Regions from separate parts of the Homo sapiens genome. Here regions 1 and 2 are each linked to region 3. The links come from fine-mapping of genetic effects on gene expression. A gene starts in region 3. Each other region holds a variant in brackets. All regions are shown on one strand. Distances are between the middles of the regions.

Region 1 (8,187 bases), 110 kb after region 3:
ATACAAACACAAGCACACACATGCACACATGCACACACACACACACACACATTTAGTCCTCACAAAAGTCCTATGATGCAGATACTATTATTACACCCATTTTACAGATAAGGAAACTAAGTCACAGAGAGGTCAAATGGTAAACTCAGTATTTGAAGCCAGACAGTGTGGCTTCAGATTCCATAGTCTTAACTAGTACTCTGTGTTGTCTCTCAGCAATAAATAAATAAATATATCATATTCATGTGTGTGTGTATATAATACATATACACACAAGATATATATTTGTAAGTATATGGGGTTATGTGTATATTGCTACATATATTTGGAAAAGGATGTCAAATGGGACTTTTTCTGTTGTTTCCCAAAGTTTTGACTGAGGCTTCAAAGTTAAAGACATACATACTAGGGGTAGTCATACATTCTAAAGAGGGATGTTAGACAGATTCCCACAGGACTTGCTAAGAGGTAACCAAACTGGTATTTCAATTACTAATCCCCACCACTCAACTCCAGAATTATTATAAGATAATTCTAGAGATTAATTGAAGCAACAAAGAGGATTTTTTGAAGGGAACTCATTGGAGTAGAAAGCACTATGGTTCCCCTGCTCGAGCGAAACAAAAAAGATCTTAAGTAAACCTTTTGAAGAGAGACTGACATCTCACTCCCAGGCTGGAGGCTTGCTGCACTACAGAAACTTTAGCCTTTGTTGCTACTGAAACAGGATGAGTTCATGAGAGAACCTCGCATATGTCCTCTAGTGCTATGAAAAGATAGAAACTTATACTTGACTTTTACCTAAAATCTGAAGGCAGAAGCCTGGTTTAAATTGCTCATAATGGCAGAGCAAAGAAAGAGATCTAGACTTCCAAGGGACCATGTTTGCTGTGGACCAGGTAGTTTCTTTTGAGCATAGCTGGCAACTCCGCATAAAAATGAGGATCCCATGAATAGAAAGTTGTGGGGGCAACAGCCAAGGGGGAAGAGGGTCAGATGGTACATTGTTCCTATCAGGGAATAGTGTAGGGAAGAGATCCCTGCTAGCAGGAAGAGGAGTTAGAAGGTCCCTGAATAAACCAAGAAGGAACACTACAAGAAAAGGCAGTATTTGGGCATCTATGTCACAGAGGATATTCATAGCCAGATTACACCAGCACCAGTCAATTCAGCTTCTCACTGTCCCTTTAAGATTCCCCTCTCCATACCCACCCCACCCCTAAGCCCTGGAGGAGACAGAAGCAGTAGAACAAGTAGGGGAGGAGGTAGAGCAAGAAGAATAAAAGAACAGACCAAGTCACTTTTCTCACTAGAGATCTGTGGGATTGCCAGTCAAGCTGCACTGGAGGTTGGGGACTGGAGGAGAAGTTTTAAACTGGATGTGAGATGGAAGTTTTGATTTGACTGAACTTTTAAGTGCCTACAAATTAAACTATTGTAAATATCTGAGAGTAACCAAAAAGCGAGTGGGTTAAATATATAACATAATATGGGATAGTGAAACGTTACCCAAAAAATCAAAGGAATAGAGTAATATTTTATATATGTTAGTCAAGCAAAGCCTCTCAAAAGAGGTGACACTAACAAAGTACAGAAGCAAGCCATGGGAATGTCTTTGGTCCTCATCTCTCTTCAGTATATTCATTCTCCTTGGATGATCTTAGAATAGAAGCTTGTAAGATAGACAGGGAGCAGATCATGAAAGTCTTTCTAAGTCATGTATGTATAAGACTCAATTTTGAGAACCACCGAGAGCCACTGAGTTTCTCCGTGATCCGATTTGGATTTGGGGAAGACTACTTTGGCAGTGGTATGGAAAATAGATTGGAAGTAGGGTAACTATCCCAATGACTTCAATTTCCCCCTGTTGACTCTCAATCTTGTATCTCTACCCTACATTTTCTCCTGATTTTCAGACTCGTATGTTTAATGGCTACCAGCCATCCCCACCTTAATGATCACAACCACCTCAAATTCAACTTTTCCAAACTTAAACTTCATCTTCCTTACAAATCTTTTCTGTCCCCAGTGTTTTCTATCCCAGTGAATAGCACTACCATCTACTTAGTAGCACAAAACAGAAACCGTCCCCACACCTAACTAGTCCCTAGATCCTGTTGTTCTCATCACCTAAGTAGATTTTAAATTCCTTCCTACCGTCACTGCCTTAACTCAGGCCATAATCATCTCTCTCCTGAACTACACAAACAGCCTCCTGACTTGTTACCCTAATTCCAGTCTATTTTCCACACCACTGCCAAAGTAGTCTTCCCCAAATCCAAATAAATAGGATCATGGAGAAACTCAATGGCTCTCGGTGGTTCTCAAAACTGAGTCTTATACATGGCTTTGAAAGACTTTCATGATCTGCTCCCTGTCTGCCTTACAAGCTTCTATTTTACCATTCTTTGTCTTGACCATTCTGTTTCTAGGCAACCTAAATGATTTTTATTTTCCTCCAAACACCAAGTTCTCTCATGGCTCTTCCATCCTCCTTTTATCTTCTCCAGGCTAAGCCTTACTTATCCTTTGACTCAGATATGATCTCTTCTGGAAAGCCTCTCCTGTACCTTGCTAGTGTGGGTGTACCTCCCCTATGCTCCCATTGTTCCATAACACTCTTTATAAAAATTTCTGACATAGTACTCACTACACAGTATTTGCATTGTCTTTTCAAGTGGTTGCCTTTACCACTAAAACATGAGCTCTTCGAGATCAAGATCTATGTCTTATTAACCTCTGTATTCATAAGGCCTGCATATGAAATAGGTTCCCTTTTAAAATCCAAACTGTTCTTCTGCCCAGACTCTTCTTTCCTTCACTCCCCCTTGCACTTTGAATTCCTAGTCACTCCTACAGATTCAATTTATCTACCCCATAGGGTGTTTGTATGCCAAACAACTAGCGGATTTATTTCTCCTAGGGTTTATTCTCAACCAAAAACAATATTGCTTCCCCCTGCCCAGGGGACATTTTTGGTTGTCACAACCAAAAAGAGAAGTGCTACTGGCATCTAGTGGGTGGAGGCCCAGGATGCTATTAAACATCTTATAATGCACAGGACAGCTTCCCACAACAAAGAAGTGTCCAGCCCCAAGCTCAGTAGTTCTGAGGCTAAGAAACCTTGCCCCTTAGCTGTGGTGCACTTTTCAGCCTTGTTTCTCTTGTGCTGAATTACAGCGTTTTCTGTGAAATTCAGTCCTGCATTCTGGAGTCCAAGATAATGACAAGAGGAAAAAGGAGTCATAAAGATA[A/C]AATTCTTGTGGGCTGGGGTTTCATTTGGTCTTGCTGATGAGCAAAACACATTTGCACACATGCTAAAACCCATATTTGGGAAAACATTCACTTACAGAGAGATGGGCCATTTGTAAGATGGGGCTTTAAATTCAGAGAACACTTTAAAGCCACTTTTTTGACTCAAGCTAAGCACATTAGACAAACTCCTATACAAGTGGAAAAAGAGAGGAAAATAATTATTTGTTGAGCTATTTCTATAATGTATCATCTCTTTTAATCATCACATTAGCACTATAAATTAGGCACTATTATTATCTCCACTTTACAGATGAGAAAACTGTGGCTCAGATAAGTTAGGTAACACATTAATGTTAAATGAAGAAACAGGGGCTTAAATCCAATGTCTTCCTATTATACCACACAAGGATGATTCAGTGTTCAAGGCACAAAAAAATTAAAATGTTTTCTAATGCTTGCAACATTTTGTTTGTGCTGTCAAACTTAAAAAAAAAAAAGCAGTTTGGCATTCACTCCAAGTCCAGTTAACCCTCTGTTTGAGTCTCCTCACTTGAGTAGGACGCATCTGCCTTTGGTATATTTCCATCTAGGGGCACTGTAGTTCAATAGGATCTTGCCTGGGCTGGGAATCAGAAGATGTGAACTTGTTCAATTTTTTTTTTTAAATGACTGTGGCAGTTATCTCACTATTCCTTGGTTTCTCATTTGCAAAATTATATTTCATTATGATAATAATATACTATGATAAATATGATATATCCAACATATAGGCCTTTTTTTTTTTGAGATGGAGTCTCACTCTGTCACCCAAGCTAGAGTGCAGTGGCGCGATCTCGGCTCACTGAAAACTCCTCCTCCCGGGTTCAAGCAATTCACCTGCCTCAGCCTCCCGAATAGCTGAGATTACAGGCGCTAGCCACCAAGCCCGGCTAATTTTTGTATTTTTCATAGAGATGGGGTTTCACCATGTTGGCCAGGCTGGTCTCGAATTCCTGACCTCGTGATCCACCTGCCTCGGCCTCCCAAAGTGCTGGGATTACAGGCGTGAACCACCGCGCCCAGCCACATATAGGCCTTTCTAATATGCAACTTCAGGGTCCCTTTTCAGGCCAAGACTCCCTAGCCAAAGGTCCCTAGGATTCAGTCTTCTTTTCTCTTTCCGAAAGTACTGCCACCCCCTCTATCCTTTTGGGCTGCTTCTCAATAATCCTTTTCCCCCATTCTGTGAAGTGGGACATGGTCTCAATGCTCCAGAAGACAATCACAGGAATTCTTCTACTGTAACCAGTTACAGCACTACTAAACTATTTTTCCCTTACAAGGAGTAACTATTGCATTAGCCAGATTCAGAGAAAAACATGGACTGTGCAACTTTTCTGTTGTTATTAGGAATACCATCAAACACTGCTCTAGCACCATTCATAATGCTTCACAGGAATGGTGGTCATTGTAATAGGAGTGTACATATCTTATAATGCCTCAATTACACAATTGTCAACAGCTGCCTCAATGCAAAGGGCAGTTTGGGCTGAGGCAGCGTATAAGCAGAACATTGCACGCTATAATTTGCATTAATAGCCTTTCCACCCACTATGCTTGTATCTACTCTAATATCACAAGCTTCATCTTCAAGGATCTTGAAGTCACATCTCCACTACCTTGCTGTTGCCATTCCATTTTTCATAATGCAGCTCAAAATTTCTCTCTTCAGACTTACAAGGAGGAGCTATCTGCAAATCGCTTCATCTGGGTTTAATCCCTGCTTCCTTTTCCTAAAATTTTCTTTATTATTCTTCTTGCACTCTTACTTGACAATCTTAAAATTGTTCTTACTGTGTATCCAAAGGTATGTAAGAATGAGGCTTGACACAAATAAACTGCAGTAAGATGTGAAGGCAGTTACTAGGGAGCTTCTGCAAATTTGTCGAGTCCTGGCACTCATTTTAAGCAAACAAACAAGTTTATTGAGAGTTCACCCTGCCCAGATACCTTTCTATTTGAAGCTCAGTAAATGTACAACTACCTCACCTCAGCATGAACTGAAAAGGTACAACAAGATTTCCAAAAGAAAAGTATTTGACAAGCAGAGTTAAAGTGAAAATTAGTATTTTCTTTAAAAAAATAAGAAGATTGGGTTCCTCTGTGCTCCAAGTCCTATGATTGTTCTTTGACAAATTTTTCACATTGTTATCTCTTTTGTTAGATCTTCAAAAAAGCAGACTCCCAAACAGGATGTTTTAAAAGTGAAAACCATGGGCTTGAAAAATAATAGAAAGAACGAGCAAGAAGAATAGTGTCCAAATTCCATCCTTCTGTTGCTACTGCTAACTGTCCAGAAAGGGGAAATGGTAGACAGTTGATGTTTCAGTTGCTGTGAAGTAGTGAAGTAAATAATAATACGGGAGGCCTCTAGGAAGAAAGACTATGTGTTGACACCAAATCAGCCAGCATAGAGTAGCCTCCACTCTGTATGTCTCTGCCTGTACAAATTCCTTCTCTCTGGAGGCTATTTTCCCAGCCTAATTTATAAACATCATGACAAAAGAGTTGGTTATTTGGGGTCAGCATAACACCGGGCAGTGGAAAAGCAAATACAGAGAACAAGATGTTCTACGCGTACATAATAGTGTCATTTCTTTTGAGGAGACACAGGAATCAAATAACAGGGATTTTTGGCTCTTCGGATTCTGAAGGAAAACAAAATGACCTTGGCATCTAGCAAATAAGCTCGAATTCAGAGGATTGAAGTTATTACCCAAAATAAGATTAGATTCTGCCCTGTGGGGACACATTTGTATTTCACAGTCAATTTGGGATTAACCTTTTCAGGGCTGGTGGAGAATTAATTAGTTCTTTACTTCTCTCTCTGGACTGCCTCAGGCTCTAGAGGTTTCCATGTATTCTAAAGGAGATTTGTGCAGGGCAGCCAGCTGTGCAACTGTGACTTATTTATTCATGCTTCTGGCATAGATTCCTCTGAGTGTGAGAACTGTAGAAGGCGCCCCTCCCAAAGAGCACACAAGCCCAACCCAGTGTAGCAGGACTTTGTGTGGGTGAGGTCCATCCAGTGCATCAATTATGACAGTCCAGAAAGGGACTGATCTGTGAAACCTCCCCAGGTCTGTTTCCTCCTCCACGGTGTTTCTCTTTTCTTCAATTGCTCCTGCTTTGTCCACACTACCACAGATGGGGCAGTTATGGTAATTCCAAAAGCCCAAGAATTCAAGCTGGCACTGCCTCAGCAACTGTGTGTTTTTAAAAGAAGCATACAAGTTCAATATGCATAGTTTAAAAAAGATGTCCGTCAAAATGTTAACAGTGATTATTTCTGTGGAGTGGGATTACTGAAAATTTTTGTTTTCCTCTTTGTGGTTTCCTAAATTTTCTGTTTTGATCATGTATTATTTGTGTAGGTTTTTCAATTTTCTTCTTTTAAAAAGGTAAGCTTCGCAGATGAATCATTTGTATTTCCCTAGTGCTCTATCTCCAAGCACTGTAGAACAGCCCTGAAAGTGTACAGAAAAACACCCAAGTGGGGAGTTTCACTTCCAGCATTATTTTTCTTTAAAATCATGGAGATAAGGCAAAGGATGAAGATATGAACACATGTTATCAGTGCGGCCTCAGCAGAAAAATAATTCACTCCAAATGGCTCAAATGAAGAGAATTTGTGAAAAACCATTTATAGGAAGTGGTCAGGGTTATAGACCTTGTTACAGAAGAAACAAGGGATAGTGAGGTTTGAGTGGGAAACTGTTACCACCCCTACAGCCAAGGGATAAGCGAAGAAACAGTTACCAGAGGCCAGCAAGTGCTGAGTCTATGGAGGAGGAGTTGGCCAGTGGGTGCTCTAGTTGTTTAAGAATGCAGCTACTGCCAGGGATGCAGTGCACAGCAGAGAGTGTAGGGAAGAAATATCCCTGACGCCTCGCTCCTTCACTCTCTGATCTCCTATTATTTTTAACCCTTTACCAAACCCAATGCAAGCCAAGGCAAGGGAACCAAGAATATGCAGTCCATAGGAGTAAACCTCCTAAGACATAAGGAGGGACTAGGAAGAGTAAAAACTGGATGAAGGTAGGAGATAAAGACCATCTAGCAGTCTACTCCTTTTATTTGAAAAACCACTTTATTGAGGAATAATTGACATAAAAAATTATACATATTTAATGTCTACAACTTGAAGAGTTTGGAGAAAAGTATACACACCTGAAAAAATAACCACAATCTATGTCATAAACACATCCATCATCTCCAAAAGTTCCCTCCTGCTCTCTTCATTTATTATTTTTTATAAGAACACAACATAAAATCTACTCTCTTAGCAAATTTTTAAGTATATAATACAGTATTGTTAACTGTAGGCACCATGCTGTACAGGAAATGTCTCGGACTTATTCATCTTGCGTAACTAAAGCCTTCCCATTTCCTAATACCTTCCCATTTCCTCCTCTCCCTAGCCCCCAACAACCACTATTCTACTCTCTGCCTCTATGAGTTTGACATTTTAGATTCCACATTAGTGGTATCATGTGGTATTTGTCTTTCTGTGTCTAGACTATTTTACTTAGTATAATGTCCTCCAGGTTCATCCATGTGTTACAAGTGGTAGAATCCCACTCTTTTTAAAGGCTGAATAATATTCCATTTTATGTATATGCAGTAGTCCCCCCTTATCTGTGGTTTTACTTTCCACAGTTTCAGTTATCCCTGGTCAACTGTGGTCCTAGAATATTAAATGGAAAATTTCAGAAATAAACAATTCATAAGTTTCATGTTTTGTGTCATTCATAGTAGTATGATAAGATCTCACGCTGTCCCACTCAGTCCCACCCTGGATATGAATCATCTCTTTGTCCAGTGTATCCACGCTGTATATGCTCCCTGCCCATGAGTCACTTAGGAGCCATCTAGGTTATCAGATCAACAGTG
Region 2 (8,187 bases), 21 kb after region 3:
GCAGAAAGCCCTTTAGAGAAATACAAGCTGCATAAGGGCCTTTGGTTTGGAGGTGTAGTGTCTCATAGCTCTTTTTAGGACTTAGTCTCAGGGCATAAAATGAATTGAGTGAAGTTAGCAATGATGAGGGGGAGGGAGTGGCCAGGAAAAGTACAACCTGAGGCCCCAGCCTCCCAGGTAAAGTCTTTGTGACCTTATAATCAATAGGTCTGCAACTGTAGTGCTAAATGACTTCCCGTAATTTGAAGATGGTGTCTCCAGATGGCAGTAGTGTGTCTCAGTCACATGCTCAAAACGAATGCTGGGAACCACAGCATGTTGCTGCTTTAGGAAAGATGGGACACTGGCTCAGACCCAGACACTGACTTAGGGAAAATCATTCACAGGGTTGAATATTTTACACATGAAATTTCATTTGGTTCTCACAACAGCCCTATGGAACGGTTTATTATCCCCCATTTTACCAACCAGGAAACTAAGCTCAGGGAAGTTTTAGATTCAGAGAGTCACAGAGAATTTAAACTCAGATCTGTCTGACTCTAAAGCCATGCTTAATTCATCTCTTTCATCAAAAATTAACTCATTGTTCTAAAAAAGAAGACCAGAAAAAAAAGAACAACCAAATCATTATTTTAGAGCAAATTGGCATGTCATTTGCTATCATTTTCACTCATCTTGCACTTTCTATCATTCCCTTATCCCAACTCCTAGCTTGGAGTCAGCTGGGGCTGCTGCTTTCCTTGCAGCTTGCCTCATCCCTGAGCAAGCTAGTCACACTGCCTGGGTTATCTGAAGATAATAGAAGACAACAGAGAAGGCCCTTTCAAAACTCTCGTCAGCACTTTATTTTCTGCATACACCTTAAAAAGAGATAGACAGATGAATAGCTACAGAAAGCGGAGACAATGGGCCTGAGTTCAAACCTCCGCTTCTCCCCCTTCCAGCTCTTGGACTCTGGACAAACACCTATTATGTGCCAGTCACTGTGCTATGTATTTTATAAATGTTATTTCATTTAAATAAATTGCACACTTGCTATGTAGTGATATGGAAAGATCTCTAAATACACTGTTAAGTTTACCAAACAAGCAATGGAGGGAAGAGTGGGCATAATATGCTACTCTATGTATTAAAAAGGAAGGAAAAATAAGAAGCTATACCAACATTTGCTTTATAGGCACAAAGAAACTATTAAAAGTAGTTATTTGGGAGGGGACTAAGTCGGGGTGGGCATGGGAGCAGGGGTTGGGGGAAGACATTTTACTTTGTAACTTTTTATACTTTTGAGGTTTTGAGTCATGCGGATATATTATCTATTCAACAAGGTCAGTGTTTACTTCAAAATAGTAGCCTATTTTATATCTGCAGTGGCAGACACTGCAATTACATAGGACATGGAGTTTGGAGCAGACAAAGCCTGGGTTCAAATTTCAGCTCTACCCCTTACTTGCTTAGGGATCCTGGGCAATTTACTTCCTCATCTGCAAAAGAGGGATAAACACCTGCATACCTTACAGGGCTGTTGGGAGAACTGTATAAGATGATATATGTGAAAAGGAAAACATGTAGCATGGTGCCTAGAACACAGGAGATACACAATAAAGACTTACACACTTCCTACCAGACAATTTTGCTATACAGTATTTTTGGGGTTTTTTTAGGTGGGGTGGGGGAGTTTTTTTTTTTTTTTTTTTTTTTTTAAGACAAAGTTTCGCTCTTGTTGCCCAGGCTGGAGTGCAACGGCACAATCTTGGCTCACTTCAACCTCTGCCTCCCAGGTTCAAGCAATTCTCCTGCCTCCGCCTCCCAAGTAGCTGGGATTACAGGCGCACACTACGGCACCCGGCTAATTTTGTATTTTTAGTAGACCCGGTTTTACCATGTTGGACAGGGTGGTCTCAAACTCCTGACCTCAGGTGATCCGCCTGCCTCGGCCTCCCAAAGTGCTGGGATTACAGGGGTGAGCCACCACGCCCAGCCAGCCATACAGTATTTAACCACATTCTTTTTTCTTTTATTGGTACATAATACTTTACATATTTATGGGGCACATGTTGAGTGTCACACGCATAGACTGTGGACTAATCAAGTCAGGGTATTTGCGGTATCCATCACCTTCAGTATTTATTATTTTTATGTGTTGGTATCAAGTCCTCTCTTCTACTTACTTTGAAATATACAAAACATTGTTGCTAAGTATAGTCACCCTATTCTGCTATCAAACATTAGAATTTATTTCCTCTAACTATAGATTTGTATCCATAACAAAACTCTCTTCATCCCCTCTGCCACCCACTTACCCCTCCCAGTCTCTCGTATCTATCATTCTATTCTCTATGTCCATGAGATTAACTTTTTAGCACCCACAATTAAATGAGAACATGCAGTATTTGTCTTTTTGTGCCTGGCTTATTTTGCTTAACATAATGTCTTCCAGTTCCATCCATGTTGCTGCAAATGACAGGATTTCATTCTTTATTATGGCCAAATACTATTCTATTATGTATATGTACCACATTTTATTTATCCATTAGTCCACTGATGGATACTTAGGTTGATTCCATATCTTTGCTATTGTGAATAGTGCTGTGATAAACACACGAATGCAGATCCCTTTGATATCTTGATTTCTTTTCCTTTAAATAGGTACCCAGTAGTGGGACTGCTGAATCATACGGTAGTGCTAGTTCCCTCCCTCCCTTCCTTCCTTCCTTTCCTTCCTTCTCCTTCCTTCTCCTTCCTTTCTTCCTTCCTTCCTTCCTTCGAGATGGAGCCTCATTCTTGTTGCACAGGCTGGAGTGCAGTGGCGCCATCTCGGCTCACTGCAACCTCTGCCTCCTGGGTTCAAGCGATTCTCCTGCCTCAGCCTCCCCAGTAGCTGGGATTACAGGCACCCGCCACCACGCCCAGCTAATTTTTGTATTTTTAGTAGAGACGGGGTTTCACCATGTTGGCCAGGCTGGTCTCGAACTCCTGACCTCAGGTGATTCACCTGTCTTGACCTTCCAAAGTGCTGGGATTACAGGTGTGAGCCACCACGCCTGGCTAGTTTTCATTTTTTAAGAAATTTCCATACTGTTTTCCATAGTGGTTATATTAATTTACATTCTCATCAACAATGTATGGTTCCCTTTTCTCTGCATCCTGGCCGGCATCTGTTATTTATGTCTTTTTTTTTTTTTTTTTTTGAGACAGAGTCTCACTCTGTCCCCCAGGATGGAGTGCAATGGCATGATCTCGGCTCACTGCAACCTCTACCTCCTGGGTTCAAGCAATCCTTCTGCCTCAGCTTCCCAAGTTGCTGGGATTACAGGTGCCCACCACCATGCCCAGCTAATTTTTGGATTTTTAGTAGAGACGGGATTTCATCATGTTCGCCAGGCTGGTCTCAAACTCCTGACCTCAAATGATCCGCCTGCGGAGGCCTCCCAAAGTCCTGGGATTACAGGCATGAGCCACTGTGCCTGGCCTTTTTAATAATAGCCATTTTAACTGGGGTGAGATGATATCTCATTGTGTGGTTTTGATTTGCATTTCCCTGATGATTAGTGATGTTGAGCATATTTTCACATATCTGTTGGCCATTTGTGTGTCCTCTTTTGAGAAATATCTGTTCATGTCCTTTGCCCAATATTTTGTTTTTGTTTTTTGTTTTTGTTTTGGAGACGGAGTCTCCTGACCTCGTAATCCGCCCACCTTGGCCTCCCAAAGTGCTGGGATTACAGGCGTGAGCCACTGCGCCCAGCCCCTTTGCCCAATATTTTAATGGAATTATTTGTTTTTCTACTGTTGAGTTGTTCGAGTTCCTTGTATATACTGGACATTATTAGTCCCCTGATGGATAAGTAGTTTGCAAATATTTTCTCCCATTCAAGAGGCTGTCTCTTCACTCAGTTGTTTGTTGTTGTTTTGCTGTGCAGGAGCTTTTTAGTTTAATATAGTCTTCCTGGTCTATTGTTGTTTTTGTTTCCTGGCTTTTGAGGTCTTAACCATAAAATTGTTGCCTAGACCAATATCCTGAGGAGTTTTCCCTATGTTTTCTTCTAGTAATTTTATACTTCTGGGTCTTACATTTAAGTTTTTACTCCACCTTGAGTAAATTTTTGGATATGAGAGATGGGTGTCCAATTTCATTATTCTGTATAAGGTTATCTAGTTTTCTCAGCACCATTTATTGAAGAGAGTGTCCTTTCCCCAGTGTATGTTCTTGATGGCCTTGTCAAAGATCAGTTGGCTATAAATATGTGAATTTATTTCTGGGTTTGCTATTCTGTTCCATTGATCTATATATCTATTTTTATACCAATACTGTGTTGTTTTGGTTACTATAGCCTTACAATATATTTTGAAGTCAGGTAATGTGATGCCTCTAGCTTTGTTCTTTTTGCTTGAGATTGCTTTGGCTATTCTGGCTCTTTTTTAGTTCCACATTAATTTTAGGATTGCTTTTTATATTTCTGTGAAAAATGATGTTGGTATTTTGATAGAAAGTGCATTGAATCTGTAGATTGCTTTGAGCAATATGGTCATTTTAACAATATTAATTCTTCTGATCCATGAACACGGGATATCTATTTTTGTGTCCTCTTTAATTTCTTTCATCGATGTTTTATAGTTTTCAGTGTAAAGGTTTTCACTTCTTTGGTTAAGTTTATTTCTAGATTTCTTTGTAGCTATTGTAAATGGAATTGCCTTCTTGATTTCTTTTAACCACATCCTCGTTTCAGTTTCCCATGGGCATTCTTTGGGTACAGTTGCTCAGCCACTTATGAATTTTTAACCATATTGTCACCTCTCCTGTATTACATCTCATCCACATCAATGACATGAAAAGCATTGTCACATGCCTCACTTACTTCCACATAGTGTATCCACCATTTCCCCTGCTCTACCAGTCTGGTGACCCTACCCAAACAGGAAATTAGGTCAGTCTGGAATTACTTGTTCCAGAGGGTTCCTGGAGATCACTATTTCTCTGGGTAACTGCCATACGCCTTATGTTTAAATATTCTAGAACACTATGCTATCAGTGCTGTCAGTGTCACTAGGCTATAGTTCCCAGAGACTTCTTCCTTATTTGAAAACAGATTGTGTTTGCTCTTCTCCAGCCTTTCAAC[G/A]TTTTTGTCTTTATGCCAGGATTTTTTCTGGGTCGGAAAATTTGAACTTATTTACAATAGCTGGGGCCTCTCCTACTGTCTCAGCATTTAGACCGACCTTTATATTTCCCTTTACCATTCTTACTTATTCTACCGATTCCAATCTGATGTGTATTTTCCTTGACAGACTATGGGAGCGATATAGAATGGGAGTGATTGTTGAGGTCCCAGCCTGCCAAATAAGGTCTTTGTGATATGTGTTGTGGCCTTATAATCAACAGCTCTGCAACTGTAGTGCTTAAAAGACTTTCTGTAATTTGGAGATGGTGTCTCCAGATGGCAGCCATGTGTCACTGCCACAGGCTCAAAAGTAATGCTGGAAGCCCCAAGAGTAGTGTTTACTGAAGAAAAGATTTCTCACTGTCATCTGTCTTCATTCTCCAGTTGCACTCAGAAAGAGGCTCTAGCCTTTCTTTGTTCCTTTGGTGTCTCATCTACTTCTTTTTTTTTTTTTTCAAAGCTTTTTTTTTTTCCCCCTTAGGATGTGGGAACTGAGTCAACTCACATGGGGCTTTAGCCTTCCCAACCCTAGGCCAACAGACCCGTGCCATGCTGTGTGTGTGCATCCTTGGGCAGGCGGCCCTCTGCTTGTTTATATGTGCCCCTTTAAACTCTGAACCCACTAAAGAGTCATTTATTTTGTATAGCCTGTGAGGCATCTTTATGATGCCTTTATGATTTAACAGCCTTATAACCTTTTGTGCTCAGTACTGAACTGGGATTGGACTTTAATTCCTAAGAAGCCTTCTTCCTTCTTTGATGTCACATTCCCTTCCTCTCTCTAGTTTACATTTTTGTATTATCCTTTAAATTTTTATTTTAAACATACATACAGAAAAACTCACTCTTTTTGGTGTACAGTTCTGTGAGTTTTGACAACTGCATAGGGTCACATAACTCCCACCACAGTATGAGACAGTTCCATCACTTCAAAATCTTGCCCAGTGCTTCCCCTTTGATGTTATTCCCTACCTCTACCCCTAATCTCTGGCAAACACTGATCTGTACTCTGTCACTGTATTTTTGCCTATGTCCCTATATTTTTGTTATATAAATGGAACTCTACAGTATGTAGTTTTTCAAGTGTGGCTTCTTTCACGTCCCAAAATAAATTTGAGATTGATTGATGTTGTTGCATGTATCAGCACTTCATTCTTTTGTATGAATACACCACAGTTAGTTTAGCCATTCACCCATAGAAAGACATTTGAGGCTGGGCGCGGTGGCTCATGCCTGTGATCCCAGCACTTTAGGAGGCCAAGGCGAGCAGATTAAGAAGTCAAGAGATCGAGACCATTCTAGCCAACAAGGTGAAACCCCGTCTCTACTAAAAATACAAAAATTAAATACAAAAATTAGCTGGGCGTGGTGGCAGGCGCCTGTAGTCCCAGCTACTCGGGAGGCTGAGGCAGGAGAATCAAGCTTGAACCCAGGAGGTGGAGGTTGCCGTGAGCCGAGATTGCACCACTGCACTCCAGCCTGGTGACAGAGGGAGACTCCGTCTCAAAAAAAAAAAAAGAAAAGAGAAGAAAGAAAGACATTTGAGATTTGAGTTGTTTCCAGCTTTTGGCAATTATGAATAAAGCTACTTTTAACTCTCGTGTACAGGATTTTGTGTGGACACAGGTTTTTATTTCACTGGCATAAATACCTTTAAGTGGGATTGCAGAGTCGTATGGTAAGTGTACCTTTCTTTATAAGAAGGTAGGTGTTACCTTTATAAGAAATAGCCAAAATATTTTCCAAAGTGGCTGTATTTTTGCATTTCCACCAGCCATATATGAGAATTCCAGTTTCTCTCCATCTTCACAAACACTTGGTATTACCAGTTTTTTTTAAGGATACCCTCCCTGATGGATATATAAGTAGTATCTCATTATGATTTTAACTTGCATTTCCCAAATGATTAATGATGCTGAACATCTTTTCATGTGCTTATTTGCCATCGGTGTAGCCTATTCAGTGCCATGTGTGCTTATATCTTTTGTCCATGTTCTAACTGGATTGTTTGCTTTTTCAATGTTTTGAGAGTTCTTTCTATATTTTAAATACTAGTCCCTTTTATGGCTTTGTCTTTTCACAGAGCAATTTTTAATTTTGACAAGGTCCAATTTGTTAATTCATTAATTTATTTATTAAAATTTAATTCTTCTGGCCGGGCGCAGTGGCTCACGCCTGTAATCGCAGCACTTTGGAAGGCCGAGGCAGGAGGATCACAAGGTCAGGAGATCGAGACCATCCTGGCTAACACAGTGAAATCTCGTCTCTACTAAAATACAAAAACTTAGCCAGGCATGATGGCAGGCGCCTGTAGTCCCAGCTACTCAGGAGGCTGAGGCAGGAGAATGGCGTGAACGTGGGAGGCGGAGCTTGCAGTGAGCTGAGATTACGCCACTGCACTCCAGCCTGGGCGAGAGTGAGACTCCGTCTCAAAAAAACAAATTTTAATTTTTCTTTTATTAATTCTGCTGTTGGTGTCATACCTCAGACCACTTTGCTTAGCCCTAAATCCCAGTGACCTTCTCCTGTTTTTTCAAGTCCATGATCCCATTTGAGTTAATTTTTGTATAAGGTGTGAGACTTAGGTCGAGGTGGGGTTTTTTTTTTTTTTTTTTTTTTTTTTGCATATGGAAGTACAAGTGCTCCAGCACCGTTTGTTTGAAGGCTATCTTTCTTCCACTTAATTGTTTTTGCACTTTTGTCAAAAATCATTTCAACACACCTGTGTGGGTTTACTTCTGGGCTCTCTATTTTTTTCCATTGACCTATTTGTCTTTTCACCAACACCACACTGTCTTGATTACTATACTTCTAGCTTGCCTTTCTTCTATTGCTACAGTCCCCCGATGGTGTTATACATTAAATATCCAGGATGGAGAAGCCACATGCTACTCACCGAAGGGAGGAAATTATCACAGCAGCCTGGGCACGCGTTGTGAGCTCTCCTGTGACCGGGGCTTTCGATTGATTGGAAGGAGGTCGGTGCAATGCCTGCCAAGCCGTCGTTGGTCTGGAACTGCCTACTGCAGGC
Region 3 (8,187 bases):
GAGAGGCTGAGGCAGGAGAATGGCGTGAACCTGGAAGGCGGAGCTTGCAGTGAGCCGAGAACGCGCCACTGCACTCCAGCCTGGGCGACAGAGCAAGACTCTATCTCAAAAAAAAAATTAAAAACTGGGTCAATTTTGCATTCAGTTAAGTCTTCAAATATTGCCAAATAGAAAATTTTAAAAGGCACCTTACTTCATTGTTTACTTTGTCTGCATCTCTCTGTGGAGTACAATCTTCAAGTTTACAGCAACTCTTAGGAAATCCTTTTTCTGAGTAATAATTAGTATCTGTCCAATCTCTATAATCGGTGACACCACAACAATGCAACTGAAAAACCCAACAAAAGCATTTACAGTTTATATTACAACTTTGTAGTCAAACATTTAACCTAATATCCTCTATTGCAATTTGTGCTCAAAACATTTACTAATCTCAATGATCTCTCTCCTCAATTGATTCAAGAGATGAGCACTGGGTCCCTGATTAGCACCATGCATGACAGTTTTGTATTGGCCTTACTTTCCTGCTATAGTTGGTACTAACTGTACCTGGACTATGATGTAAGTGGGGAAGGAAGAGAACAGGTGCACATGTGAGGAAAATGAAACACGTCACACTTCTTTCCCCTACAGGTGGATAACATCTAGTAGCCAGACTCTGCTCTTTTCTCTGAGGCAACAGGGAATGTGTTCCCCTCTAGGTGGTGGTTACCACTTACCGTATTTTGGATCTTGTCTACTGCATGGCTTCTATAATCTCCTGTAGAGTTATACTGCTTCAAAGCCTTCTCATAATTATTCTTAAAGCTGTTCTTAATCTATAGCAAAGAAACACAATGTCAGTAAGAAAATCCTCTAGAAAGTTTTTGGTTTCAGGTCAAATAAGTTCTCGAATCTGACCAATGGTCATATCTTTGACAGCAGCAACATGTATAGTAATTAACTTCCATGGTACAGTCCTGTCCTCTAAGGGGTATAGGTTAGCTGAGGGGACTACTAAGCAAAACATTAAAATATATGATGAGAACCACTACAAGTTCAAAGTGCTGTGGGAATATGTATTTATCTGAGTGGCAATGCAGTATTGCTGTATTCTGCACCCTGCTAATTTTTCTCCACTTTAAACTGAGTTCAAATTCGATGCCTATGGAATTTGTAAGCTACAAAACCTTACTTTGGGAGGCTGTGCTACCACTTTATGAGAACTCTCATTAATGAGCCTTTGCTACTCACCGAATGTTATTTGAACAACCCCAAGTTTACCTGTTTTCTAATTCAGTATTAAGCTTTTTTTTTTTGAGATGGAGTCTCGCTCTGCTGCCCAGGCTGCAGTGCAGTGGCGCGATCTCGGCTCACTGCAAGCTCCATCTCCCGGGTTCATGCCATTCTCCTGCCTCAGCCTCCCGAGCAGCTGGGACTACAGGCACCTACCACCACGCCCGGCTAATTTTTTGTTTTTTTTTGTATTTTTAGTAGAGACAGTTTCACCGTGTTAGCCAGGGTGGTCTCGATCCCCTGACCTCGTGATCCACCTGCCTCGGCCTCCCAAAGTGCTGGGATTACAGGCGTGAGCCAACGCGCCCGGCCCAATATTAAACTTCTGATGATTTGCATTAAGTATATCCAATCTTTTCAAAATGCAAGGCATAAGAAGGTTATCAATTTTGTGCTTTGAATATTTTCCTATCAGCAAAGTTATAAATTGTACTATCTCCGTTTTAATAGGTATTTATACACAGAAAAACGACAGGGAATATAAGTAAGTAATTTTCTTCTGGTGACTATCAGTCTTTACAATTTTCTAAATTTTCTTTTAAATTAGAAGTGGACCAGAATTTTTACAAGAAGGCCATTATTGTCAGCTACAGGTTTAAATACAGAGGTCTGACTCTTCTACTTTAATAAATCCATTTTTATCTCTCAGAGGATAAATGTAACATGCTAAGCTTCCCTAATTCAGGCTTACCTCATGTCTGAAAACAAATCCTACGATGGCAGCGACCAGTTCGACCAAAAAAACGAGAGTCAGAAACATTGCATACTGCAGGATAAGAAAGAAAGTCCAAGTCAGCATAAATAAGATATAGCACAACTGCAAAGGGAGTCAAAGAAAAAATAATGGTCGTCTTCTCAATTAGTTCATCATGTTTTCATTGAAAAGGGCAGGGAAAATAACAACATGTCTATTTTGAAAGTGGAAACTGGCAGCTGAACTGTTACTTGATAAGTTTCCATAAGGAACAGGAAAAATTGTAAAGGGCCATGGCCAGTTCCAACAAAGGAATTCTATAACATACAAAACTTTTCTAAAACCAAGAATCAATTCTAATGAAAACAAGGACTCACCAGTTTTAGCATCCATGCAGAAGCTCGGCAGGTAGCAAAACAACCAAAGGTGCCCAAAAGAATAATGACGGTACCAGTAGCAATGAGCACGAAGGGGACATTGGTGGCCTTCTCATTTAAAAGAGAAAAGTAATTCTCCAGGCTCACCTTGCCCCAAATGCCAACTGCAAGAAGGATAACGCCAGTGATCTATGTGGGAATTCAGAGAATACAAACAGTTACGCACTGTGTACAGCAGCATCTTCAAATCACAACGCATGAGGTATTTAAGGCACAATAGGTGTAATATGCTGGGATACGGCAGACAAGGGGGAAGAGTAGAAGGGGTTAGGGGGGGATCTGCACACAAGAGCAGGCTGTGGACCAGGTATCTTATCAAAATTCTTAAAATTCATCTTTTTGTGTGTAAACACAAGCCCATGGCATATTTGCCCTAGGGATCAAAACTTCCTTAACTATCTTACTCCAACCTTAGGAAGAAAACCTTGAAGGGGAAAAAAAAAACGTGATTTTATGAGTTCCAGAAACTTCCCCCGTCCTCTCCAGGTAGGGATGGGCACAGGGTACAAAGGACTGGTACACAAAAGCAAGCCCAAGGATAGACTGGCGGGAGTGGAGGCATACCATACTTACCTGCGAAACACTCCTCTCTTACGAAGCAGTGAAAAGAAAGACACTATTATGCAAGTGAGCCCTCAAAGGGGCCGGGCAAGCCTTGCTTGCCTTTGCAAAGGTCCAGGGTCACCGTCTGCGTGCTCTGGGGGCTTAAGGCCCCACCTCGCCTCCCGTATCGAACTCGAACGCTGGTACGTCTGGGTCCCAGCTCAGCCTCTCGGCTGCCTTCGTCCCGCACTCCGACCCCAGCGCCGGCGAGATGCCTGAGCTCTTTGTTCGGGGCCCAGTCACTGGTCGCCGGCGTCGGGGTCCCAGGCGCGATGGCCGCCCAAACCCCACACCGTTCCCGACCTGAGCTCCCGCCGCTCAGGGTCACACCCCCCACAACTAAAAGCCCGGGATCCCCTGCCGGCCCCAGGCGCCTTCGTCTCTCACCCAGAAAATAAAAGTGTAGATTAGCAGAACGCTCTTGAAACAAGTAATGACTGGTTTAGTCTGCAGTCTCCGAGACGGGGACGCCATGACTAGCCCGAGACCCTGCACCACCGCACCGGGCGATTGGAACACAGAGAGCGAGACGCGGAGTCCCCGAGTCTCCCCGGAAACTGCCGAAAACTTACGAGCGTCCACAACTGAGAAGGGCCGGAAACACTGTACAATTTTGTAGAGGGTAAAGTATGGGAGGCTGTCCGGAAAGTGGCAACAATTTCAGAGCGCCCCCTGCCGAAGGTTACCGAAAACTATATACAAAGGTTCTAGTGTCGGAAATTTCATAGGTCTTCAAGTGGAGCTTTCTTCATTGTTTTTTTTCTATCCTAAGGAATCTTTCCCGCCCCCCACCCCTCCCCTCTCCTTATAACTTCACCATATTGTTTCTATCACCAGCAGAGCCCGCAGCGCTCTGAGATTGGGCCTCCCTGGCCCCTGGTGCCCTAGAGAGAAGGAAAAGAATGAAGAGGTTAAAAGCGACCTAAGAAAATACATGGGAAAATACCCACAAGAAATATATTTGCAAAAAGAAAGCGGATTGCAAAGCAATACATACAGTCACGTGTGCTTAGACAAAAACTGAAAGGAACAGTGAAATTTACCTCTGGTGGAATTAGGCTGATTTTTTTCTCACTTGTGTGCTTTTCAATTTGTGAACATTGTTTTATGGGTTAGGAAGGGGAGATGTGAATGGAGGAAAATAATCACCACTTGTTGAAAGAATTTCTAAGCTAGGTATTAAAGATAATAATGACTTTAGAATTTACCTGCAGGACTTTGCAAAACCCCAGTATTCCTCTCCTTTTTTATCCCCTAAGTAATTGGAAAGTTGAGGGAAAGTATTTTTACATAATAGTGAAATGTAAGTTCAGCTATTCGCTGTAAACTTTTAAAAAGAGAGAGTGCAATGGAAAAATCCCTGGTGAGTGTGACCTCCTCTTAAATGTTAAAACAGAAAGGCACTGTACATTCCAGCCACCTGGTTTTTCCCATCAAAACCCAGCTGATTACAGAGAGATTAAAACCTAATGTTATATATTGTGAATATATTGGTCTATGTTGTTACAACACAGGAGGTGCGTTAAGGTCTGATTTCTCAACTAAAGCGTCAGCTCTTTGAAGGCAGAGACTGAGTGTTAAGTGAGTTTGTGTTATCTCTAGAGGAACGGGGTTAGAAGGCTGTATCAGTTCCCTATGCAATCCAACCCTTCATCATTGACACAAGCTTAATATCACAAGTGGCTATTTACTCTATTGCCATTGCAAAAAGACCTGCATTTGTGGAGGAGAGATGAATACTCAAACTTTTCTGCTTGAAACGTTGCTTTAAACATACACCTCAGGACCAGAACACAGGAAAGTTCCATTGACTTGGTCACACAGAGCTTCCCTGTGCTTCGAATATTGACCTAGGACCAGTTCCTATAACATCTTGCCAGACGTCTGAGGTGCAAGGCAGCAACTGTTGGAAAATTAATTATTGCATTGCCAGGCTTTATACTAAAATTTTTACTAAAATTTGAAAGGCCTAATACACAAATACATGGAGAGAATGGATAAACGATACATCTACATACACCTTCAAACACTTTGAGGTAAAGTCGTTAGGAAATACCAAATATTCAACATGGTGGAGGGGGGTGTCTAAGTATATGCAAAGATTTCTCCCTAGGCTAAATGACCCCAACTGAAGGGTTCTTATACTAAAAACAAGGATCAAGGGAAGTCTTGATAACTTCTTGTCATCTTAAAGAGAAGTTTCTCTGAAACTTAGATATGTACTGAAAGGGATTTACAGTGTGAGCCCAAGAGCAAAGAAATATGTCTGTAGCTGAAGAAAAAACAAAATAGCAAAGCAAAAGCCACATCTTATTTCCAAGAATGTGTTGACTTTCCTCCTCTCCCTTCCTCTACCACTCACAACGCTGCTTTGTTTGAATAACACTCGGTGCCAAATTAAACCAAATGCTGACATGGAAATTCATATTCCTATGGCTACAACACCTTGCACCATTGCCTCCTACTCTGCTACACCCACTTCCATCTCCCCACCCCCACAATGCCACCAAACCGAGAAATTCAATTTAGTTCAAACCTAGGCCTGGGTTTGGGTACAAACCCAGACCAAAGGGGCATCTAATCCCGTTTAAGGCAATTTAAGAAGTATTTCCCTAGGCCACTAGATAAATGTATTCTTTAAAGTATTAATAATGACTGTGATAATAAGTATTGACTGTATACCAACCACTATTGCTAAGAGCTTGATACACATTACCTCGTATGCACACATCACAAGAACCCTATTATGAGGTTGACACACCTAGCACCTTCATTTTACAGATGAAGAAACAGGTTGAAAGAGACCAAGTAAGCTGCCTAGGACTAAACCTGGGCAACTTCTGTGTCTTTCATCAGAAATGGGGCCCACTTTGTGATGAAACATAGCTGCTGTTGTACGTACAGCTGCCTCTGCGCAGAGTAACCTGAGTAAAGACTGCTGTTGCACAGACATTTAACCTAAAACAAGGACTCCTCGGAGCCTCTGAAGCTTAAGAACCTCAATGATTGCCCCAATTCTGCCTTGCACTTGGGGTTTTTTGGTTGAGTTTGGCTTTTGCCTTCACTCCAATAGCCCAGCCACCTAGGAAGTAACCCTACCTGCCCCAGAGTGGTAAGGCAGAGAGTTCAGTACTTTTTCTTGTTCAACCTCTTAATTTCTCCCTCTTTCTGAGCACAGAAACACAATTTGATGCCAACAATGTAGGAAAAAAGGAAAATACTTTAAGTATTGTTACTGCTTGTTTTACATGGAACATTTAGTAGCCCCCCTTCCCAATTAATTTCCTGTAACCTTCAAGATTAGGTGTAAATGTTTTTCATTGCTAGACATCAGGCAAGGGAAATGACATAAACAAGGGCTCACTGTTAAGTCAGACCTCCCTTGTGCCACCTCCAGCCTCCCTCCATCCCTACCAAGCCCCTCATCCCAATACAATCTCAACTGATTTCCTACTGCTTTTCCAATGTGAATTTTCTGCTCTGTACCAGGTCAGTATGATCAACCCCCCAATTAAACAAGTCCTATTCCCTAGTCCCTGCCCACCCTCAACTTCACTCATACTTTCTGCTTCTACTGAATATCCAGTTCAATCCCAACTCAGTAAAAAGTCCCTCCTTCCTCACCTCTTTCTCTAACACCATAACTGTCTTAACTACACACTCACTCCCATTAACCCAGCCCTTTAGTCAATTACTGCAATATCTGCTTTGCATTTCTACTTACCTATTCTACATCCTACCGTCTAGATGTTCAGAAACTACTGAAGAGCTAGTGTGGCAGGGCCCCTATGCCCCCTTTTATACTCTCCTCAGTACCCTAGGACATAATGCCCAATTGATGAGTTCATTTTCTGCTCGGCCAATCCCTGTTGAGCTGATTGCTCATTGAGGTCATAACTGGTCTCTGGGAGCAACCACATAGTAATTACTCAGGATTGATTGTTGAAATTAAATAAAAAATTAAATGTCTAAGCCATCCCAGTATCACACTATAATAAAACAGAAAAAATTAAATTGAGTACCTAGATAATGTCTTGGGACATTCCTCTCTCTCTCAGGAACCACTAAAATAATAACAACAACAATAATAATAATAATAAACTGTATCGCTGAGTGTACATCTTATCTCTTATTCACATAATAACTTTACCATTTTCATTTTCTAATCCCTTTTCTAGCATCCCTTCAATTACCTTTGGCTAAGTGCCTATCATAGAATTTAAAGGCGCATCCTACTTATTTTCTTAATATCTCATATTTTATGTTACAGCCATCAGATACCTCATTATTTAAACAGTTAATTCATATGTACAGTTTTAAAAATCCATTTCGTTAATGGAATATCTCTTTATTTCTATTGTCTCTTGTGCATTCCCATTCTCCTTCTCTGAAATTCTATTCTTTGTCTATTTTTATGCCCTTGTTTTCCATCCACTCCTTTCAGATGCTCTGTGAAACCTTTCCTCCCTTTCCATCCCTGATCTTGCCTTCTTCAAAAAAGCTCATAATATACAGTTTGGGACACATAGACATGATAAATACTTTTTTTTTTTTTGAGACGGAGTCTCGCTCTGTCGCCCAGGCTGGAGTGCAGTGGTGCCATCTCGGCTCACTGCAAGCTCCACCTCCCGGGTTCATGCCATTCTCTGGTCTCAGCTTCCCGAGTAGCTGGGACTACAGGTGCCCGATACCACGCCCGGCTAATTTTTTGTATTTTTAGTAGAGACGGGGTTTCACCGTGTTAGACAGGATGGTCTCGATCTCCTGACCTTGTGATTCGCCTGCCTCGGCCTCCCAAAGTGCTGGGATTACAGGCGTGAGCCTCCGCGCCCAGCCATAAATACTTTTAAATGGTATTAAAATTGACAATTCTATGTCCATTTTCTAAGAAAGTTGTTTCTAGTCTAGCCTTGTTGAGCTTTCCTGAGATCTCAACTAGGGAAGTCAGTTTCCATATCTAATATTTCGTAAAACAATACCTTATTTACTGCTGAGGGGCTTCATATTAAAAGTCTTAAAGTTGAAAATGGTACTGAACTTTAAGAAACTTAAGAAATTGAGTATGCCTGGATGCTGTCAGTCTCCTTATCCACCTTTGTCTTATCCTCCCAACCAAACCATAAAGAGAGGTGTTTTATTTTACTTTGTAGCCTCACAGTATCTAACGTTGTGTTTTAC

Alleles and levels. Positions count from the first base shown, and alleles are read on the strand shown. Sizes are in standard deviations (SD) of each study's normalised expression. Not every link is listed here.
For the expression in transverse colon of the gene that starts at base 3,595 in region 3, allele A in region 2 goes with a lower level than allele G (small effect, 0.21 SD a copy in GTEx).

Evidence for each region.
Region 1: its variant is fine-mapped to the expression of TSPAN6 in whole blood (TOPMed, PIP above 0.99).
Region 2: its variant is fine-mapped to the expression of TSPAN6 in transverse colon (GTEx, PIP above 0.99).

The regions. Positions count from the first base shown.
Region 1 is chrX:100,740,196-100,748,382 of GRCh38, forward strand. No RefSeq gene overlaps it. Among named protein-coding and RNA genes, the nearest start is that of SYTL4, 12 kb to the left of the region's middle. The variant A/C (reference allele first, on the strand shown) is at 3,255.
Region 2 is chrX:100,654,181-100,662,367 of GRCh38, forward strand. SRPX2 (sushi repeat containing protein X-linked 2) reads left to right here. Exons shown (of 11, transcript NM_014467.3): 4 at 7,996-8,187. Among named protein-coding and RNA genes, the nearest start is that of SRPX2, 14 kb to the left of the region's middle. The variant G/A (reference allele first, on the strand shown) is at 5,118.
Region 3 is chrX:100,633,212-100,641,398 of GRCh38, forward strand. It overlaps TSPAN6 (tetraspanin 6), which reads right to left and starts at 3,595. Exons shown (of 8, transcript NM_003270.4): 1 at 3,397-3,595; 2 at 2,347-2,535; 3 at 1,967-2,041; 4 at 720-818; 5 at 194-328. The coding sequence starts at 3,483. RefSeq lists enhancers at 2,559-3,174, 3,175-3,790.